Regions from separate parts of the Homo sapiens genome. Here region 1 is linked to region 2. Evidence: fine-mapped expression QTL. A gene starts in region 2. The other region holds a variant in brackets. All regions are shown on one strand. Distances are between the middles of the regions.

What was found.
Region 1: its variant is fine-mapped to the expression of RAB28 in monocytes after R848 (Quach 2016, PIP 0.95).

The regions. Positions count from the first base shown.
Region 1 is chr4:13,383,064-13,385,969 of GRCh38, reverse strand. The region is part of intron 4 of RAB28 (RAB28, member RAS oncogene family); the gene reads left to right. Among named protein-coding and RNA genes, the nearest start is that of RAB28, 100 kb to the left of the region's middle. RefSeq lists an enhancer at 1,280-1,779. The variant GCAC/C (reference allele first, on the strand shown) is at 1,595.
Region 2 is chr4:13,482,839-13,485,744 of GRCh38, reverse strand. It overlaps RAB28 (RAB28, member RAS oncogene family), which reads left to right and starts at 1,405. Exons shown (of 7, transcript NM_001017979.3): 1 at 1,405-1,669. The coding sequence starts at 1,595. LOC105374495 (a long non-coding RNA gene) reads right to left here and starts at 1,296. Exons shown (of 3, transcript XR_925413.1): 1 at 791-1,296. RefSeq lists silencers at 944-1,003, 966-1,260, 1,254-1,873 and enhancers at 1,144-1,263, 523-1,430, 1,226-1,520.

The sequences.
Region 1 (2,906 bases), 100 kb after region 2:
CCATAAAAATCTTTGCCCAAACCAATGTCTGTAAGCATTTCTCTTGTTTTCTTCTAGGAATTTCACAGTTTCTGGTCTTAAATTTAAGCCTTTACTCCATTTTGAGTTGATTTTTGCTTATGGTGAAAGATAAGAGTCTGTTTTTATTCTTTCGCATGTGGATGTCATCATGAGGTTAGCTGGTTATTATGCAGACTTTTTTGTGTGGTTGCTTTATAGTATCAGTGGTCCGTGTACTTAAGTGTGTTTTTGTAGTGGTTGATAGTGGTCTTTCCTTTCCATATTCACTGCTTCCTTTAGGAGCTCTTGTAAGCCAGGTCTGCTAAGAATTCCCTGAGCATTTGCTTGTCTGAAAAGGATCTTATTTCTTTTTTGCTTAGTTTGGCCAGATATGAAATTCTGGGCTGGAATTTCTTTTCTTTAAGAACATTGAATATTAACCCTTCTGGCCTTTAGGGTTTCTGGTAAGAGGTCTGTTAGTCTTATGGGCTTCCCTTTGTATGTGACCTGACCCTTCTCTCTAGCTGCTTTTAACATTTTTCCTTTTATTTCAACCTTGGAGGATCTGATGATTATGTGTCTTGGGGATGATCTTCTTGTGAAGTATCTTACTGGGGTTCTCTTCATTTCCTGAATTTGAATGTTGGCCTCTCTAGCTAGGTTGGGGAGATTCTCATGGATGATATCTTGAAATATGTGTTCCAATTTGCTTCCAATCTCCCCATCTGTTTCAGGGACACCAATGAGTTGTGGATTTGTTCTCTTTATGTAATCTCCTATTTCTCAGAGATTTTGTTCATTCCTTTTCATTCTTTTTCCTTTATTCTTGTCTGACTTATTTCAGGAAGCCAGTCTTCAGGCTCTGGGATTCTTTCCTAAGGTTGATCTATTCTGCTATTAATAGTTGGAATTGCATTATGAAATTACTGTAGTGTATTTTTCAGCTCTATCAGGTCAGCTATATTCTTTTCTGTACTGGCTGTTTTGTCTGTCAGCTCCTGTATCATTTGGATCTTCCTTGGATTGGGTTTCAACATACTCCTGCATCTCAGTGACCTTCGTTTCTATCCATATTCTGAATTCTTTTTCTGTCATTTCAGCCATCTCAGTCCAGTTCAGAACCCTTGCAGGAGAAGTAGTGCCGTCATTTAGAGGAAAGAAGGTACTCTGGCTTTTTGAGTTGTTAGAGTTCTTATGTTCATTCTTTCTCATCTTTGGGGGCTTATGTTCTTTCGGTCTTTGATGTTGCTGATCTTTGGACTTTTTTTCTTTTATCCTATTTGATGACCTTGAGAGTTTGATTGTGGTATAAAGTGGGTTCAGTCAACTGGCTTCATTTCTGGAAGATTTTAGGGGGCCAAGCCTCAGCTCCCAGCTCCTGGACTGCATGCTCTAAATCTGGGGGACTTGTATCCAGCCCCAGATTTGTTCTCTGACTCCTCGAGGTTAGGAACCCACTGTGCTGGTGGGACCTACGTATTCCTGGACCACTGGTCATTACACTTCAGTAGGTGGTACTAGCCAAAGTGTTTCGTAAGGCAGCGGCAGTGGGATTTGTCCTTGTTTGCATGTGCTAGCAGCAGCAGCAGCAGCA[GCAC/C]GGTGGGGTACACACTCATCAACTGCAGCAGGGTGCTAGCAGGTGCCTGCCTCCCTGCAGGCATTCACAGCAGCAGCAGAGGCAATACTGCTTTGAGGGCCCCTGCTGGCTACTGTGCTGGTGGTGGTATTAGCATGGGGGTCGGGTGCTGGCGGGTGCAGGTCTGTGCCTGCCCTCTGTGCATGATCACTCAGGTGGGGTGGCTGCTCAGGGTAGGGGAGGTCCATTGTTCTCCCTTCCTAGTTTCACTCTTGCGGCAGTGTTGGTGCAGGGGTGAGGCTCTGGAGGTGGTGGGGTTGGCAGGGTTCACTGGGGCGAGGGAGGCTGGTGCATGGCGGTGAGTACTACTTTCCACCAGTCAGGTGCAGTGCACCAGTGCAGAGGTATAATGTGGACCCCCAGTACATCCAAGACTGCACTGCAAGCAAGTATGGCCAGGCTGGGACCTCAGGAGAGGGCAGCAGACCAAGGGATGCTGAGGTTGGACTAGCCCTGTGTGATAGGCAGGACTGCCCTGCATCATTCAGGTCTGACAGTTCCCCTAGGGCTAAAATCTCCTGTGGGAGCACAGGCACGCCTTACATGGCGTCAGGCAAGATGGCATGTGCAGGGGAACTGCCCTTTATAAAACTATAAGATCTCATGAGAACTTATTTACTATCATGAGAACAGCACAGGAAAAGCCGTCTCCATGATTCAGTTACCTTCCACCAGGTCCCTCCCATGACCTGTGAGGATTATGGGAGCTACATTTCCAGATGAGATTTGGATGAGGACACAGCCACCCAAGATGAGATTTGGGTGGGGACACAGCCAAACCATATCACTACCTGCCACAATACCTGGCATATAATAGATGCTCAATAAATGTTTGTTGAATAAGTTCTTTTTTTTTCAATTGAACAATGGTACTACTAGTCTTTCCATGGTTATATTTGTTAGGAAAAAAACTTTTGTTTGAGTAGTAAATGATAGATGGAGATTTGGAAGGAAGGAGGGAGAAAGAGAAATAAAAAGCAATAAACCATTAGAAAAAACAAATGTACACACACATTAAGTGACACAACTTTTATTTTTATTTATTTATTTTTTAATGGATGGTGATTTCAATGGGTGGCGATTTCAATGGGGATTTTTCCTCGTGACAAGATTTGTTCTTACTCTTGTTGAATTAGAAAAGTTAGCTCCAATATTATGATAAATTGGATATATAAATGTCAGTGCTAATAGCTTAGTATTTTAGTCTTCCACAAATTGATGCCTGTGGTATCTGGACATTCCTTGCCTGTTCTTGTAAATAAGGAGATAG
Region 2 (2,906 bases):
TTTCATTTAATTTTCAAACCTACACAAAGGCAGTAGTCTGTTCTACAGGTGAACTAACTGAGGCTCGAGGACACATATCTAGTAAACATGAGATTAAACTCCAGTGATGCCTCTAGGTCTGGGCATTTCTTTACACTGTTCTGCTTTCCTGTTCTAATGCCCATATGGTCTCCAAGACTACTGCCTCTGGGCTAAGCATTTTGTTAACTTAAGATACTTCATCTGCAAAATGGGGATAATTATACTTCATAATTCCTAATAGTAGTAAAGGTAACAATAAATTTTAAGTGATTAACAATGAAACAACCATAGCAGGACAGCATTATTATTTTTGAATTTACCTCACTAAATTGTAAATTTCATTTATGCCGTTTACCTAACGCTCCTGGACTGAGATTATCCAGGGCAGCAGTTCTTAAATTTTTTGGACTCAGGGCCTCTCTATAATGTTAAAGAATTACTGTGACCTCCAAAGAGCTTATGTTTATGTGGGTTACACCTATCACTACTGCATTGAAATGAAAACTGAGAAATGTTTAAAAACAACAAACGCAAGCTCCCTTAGCTGCCAGTGATGACGTCGTACACAAAGCGTATCCTCCAGGAAACGGTATACTAGTGAGAGAAGGAACGTGAGAAAGACAGACAAGGTGTCCGTATTATTATGAAAATTGTTCTGAGGTCATCGGGATTTCCAGAGGTCCCTAGACCACACTTTATGAGAACTGCTGCCTTAGGGTAAAGATGGGGTGCCAGGAGGTTGGCGATCAGTAGCGTCTGATGAACGAACCATGGGAGCCTGGGGTTGTTCAGATGAGGAAACCAAGAGTTAGGCCGAAATAAGCAGCGCCGGAGCTCCACTGTATTCACGGCCGCTACTGAGGCTTCCCAGCAGCCTCGGCCCTTAGCAGCTGTCCCCTCATCCGCCCCGAGGTACCCTCTTCCCTGGTCCGGTTTTTCAGGGGCCCTCTCTGGCGCTCTCCGCCAGGCTACGGGCGTCCCGGGTGCCCGGAGACAGGCCCCGCCCCGCCGCCGGTCCTCGAACTCCTGGCTGCCAGGCAACCCTGGCGCGTAGCCCGGGCGTCACTGCTCCACCCCGTCAGGCTGAACCATTCCCTTCAGAGACTTTCTCAAGAGGGAAGGAGAAAAGGGAATTTGATGGAACGCCTGAAAGCTGCTCTGCTCCCGTTTTCTCTCCTTAATTTGAACGAACACTTCTTTTCTTCTTCTAGCCAACTGTCTCCTGAAGGGAAACGCAGCGCCTCGCCTCTCCCGCCGGAATGTCCCCCACACCAGTCCAGGGCCGCGAGTGGTTCGGCTCGTCAGGCGGGGCCGCCGGTCGGCGCGGGTTGGCTCTGAGGCGGGGGCGCGCGCCCGACGTGCGCGTAGGGGGCGGGGCCGCGCGCAGAGGGCGGGGAGGTGGGCAAGATGGCGCTTGCCGAGTGATTCTCCTCGAATACCTCCTGCCGGCGCGGAGACACCGGGGCGGGGGTCCTGCCGCAACTACCTCCCTTCCTCCTCTCCCCCGCCCCCGGAGCCTTCATCCTTCCCTTCCCCCCCCACCTCGAGGGGCGGGCCTGGTTCCCGGGACACCATGTCGGACTCTGAGGAGGAGAGCCAGGACCGGCAACTGAAAATCGTCGTGCTGGGGGACGGCGCCTCCGGGAAGGTCAGTCCTCGAGCAGGCCCGCCGTCCCAGGCCTGCAGGAACCCCGGCGGTCCCCGGCCTCCTCCCCGCCGCCCGGCGTCGCCTCGTTACCCCGAGCCCTCGGGCTTCTAGGCCCGGGCCCTTCTGGTTGTGTGGCCTGAGGCCGGACACGAAGTGGGCGCTTGGTGAAGGCCGACGAGAGCTGTCCAGCTCCCCCTTAAAAAAGAGTCACTTCCTAACTCCCCGCCTGGATTGCGAACTCCTGCAAGACTCGGGCCAGCCTTTCAGCTTCCCGCCTCTCAGGACTGGCAGGGATTTGCCAAGGCATCTTAGCTCCTCTTACTTGTAGTCTGGGTCACACTTACTCCTCCCCTCCCACCCCCTTTACCGTTTCTGATGCTTCTACTGCATCGTGAGCTCCCAGGAGCGTAGCTCTGGAATCAGTATTCCCCGGGTGAGAATTGGGGCTCTGCCACTTAGTCGTCGGGTCATTGGAGGGCAAATTGCTAATCAGTTTAAGCTTCATCTGTAAGATGGGTATTGAAAAGGGCCGCCGCAAAGGGAGAAATGTGAAAATACATATTAAATGTGAAAATACACATAAAACCTTTAGAGCACAGTGTCCACTCAGTACACTCTAGTTGCTATTTTAATATCATACCTGTTCATCACCTCTGTTTCCAGCTCAGCACTCGATACAAGCAGTCAGTCAACAAGTGTTTATGGAGCTCCTGTTACGGGTAGGATGCTGAGGGTAGAGCTGCTTGCGTGACAAAAGGGATCCCCTGTTCGAATGAATGAATGCGGGCGTGAGAATATCAGGCAGCGTCAGTCTTATTATCTCCTAGGCAGGGGCTCCTACCCCAAGGCTGTGGAACTCCTGAAATGGAGTAAATACTGCCCGGTACGTGCTCTGGGGAGAGGGTCCATAAGATCTCAGAGGGGTCTATGATCCCTCCACCAGCAAATAGTGAAGAGCCTCTACCCGGATGCCTTCTTTCCCATGCTTCTGTCAAAGGCGCCAACACTTTCTGGGAATATTGCTAAAGTTTATCACCCCTGTACTCCCCTTCCTTATCCCAACCATAGTCTAAAGAAACCCAGGCTTTTATTTCCTGTTTAAGGCTTCACATTTCCCTGTTGCTGGTTGCATTTCGGACCCTGGTTTCTCTGGTGACGACTTCTCTTTGCATCCTCCCTGACAGTTGGCACTGCCCAGATACCTGCTTCTGCCTTTGGTTCTGACATTTGAGTTTCG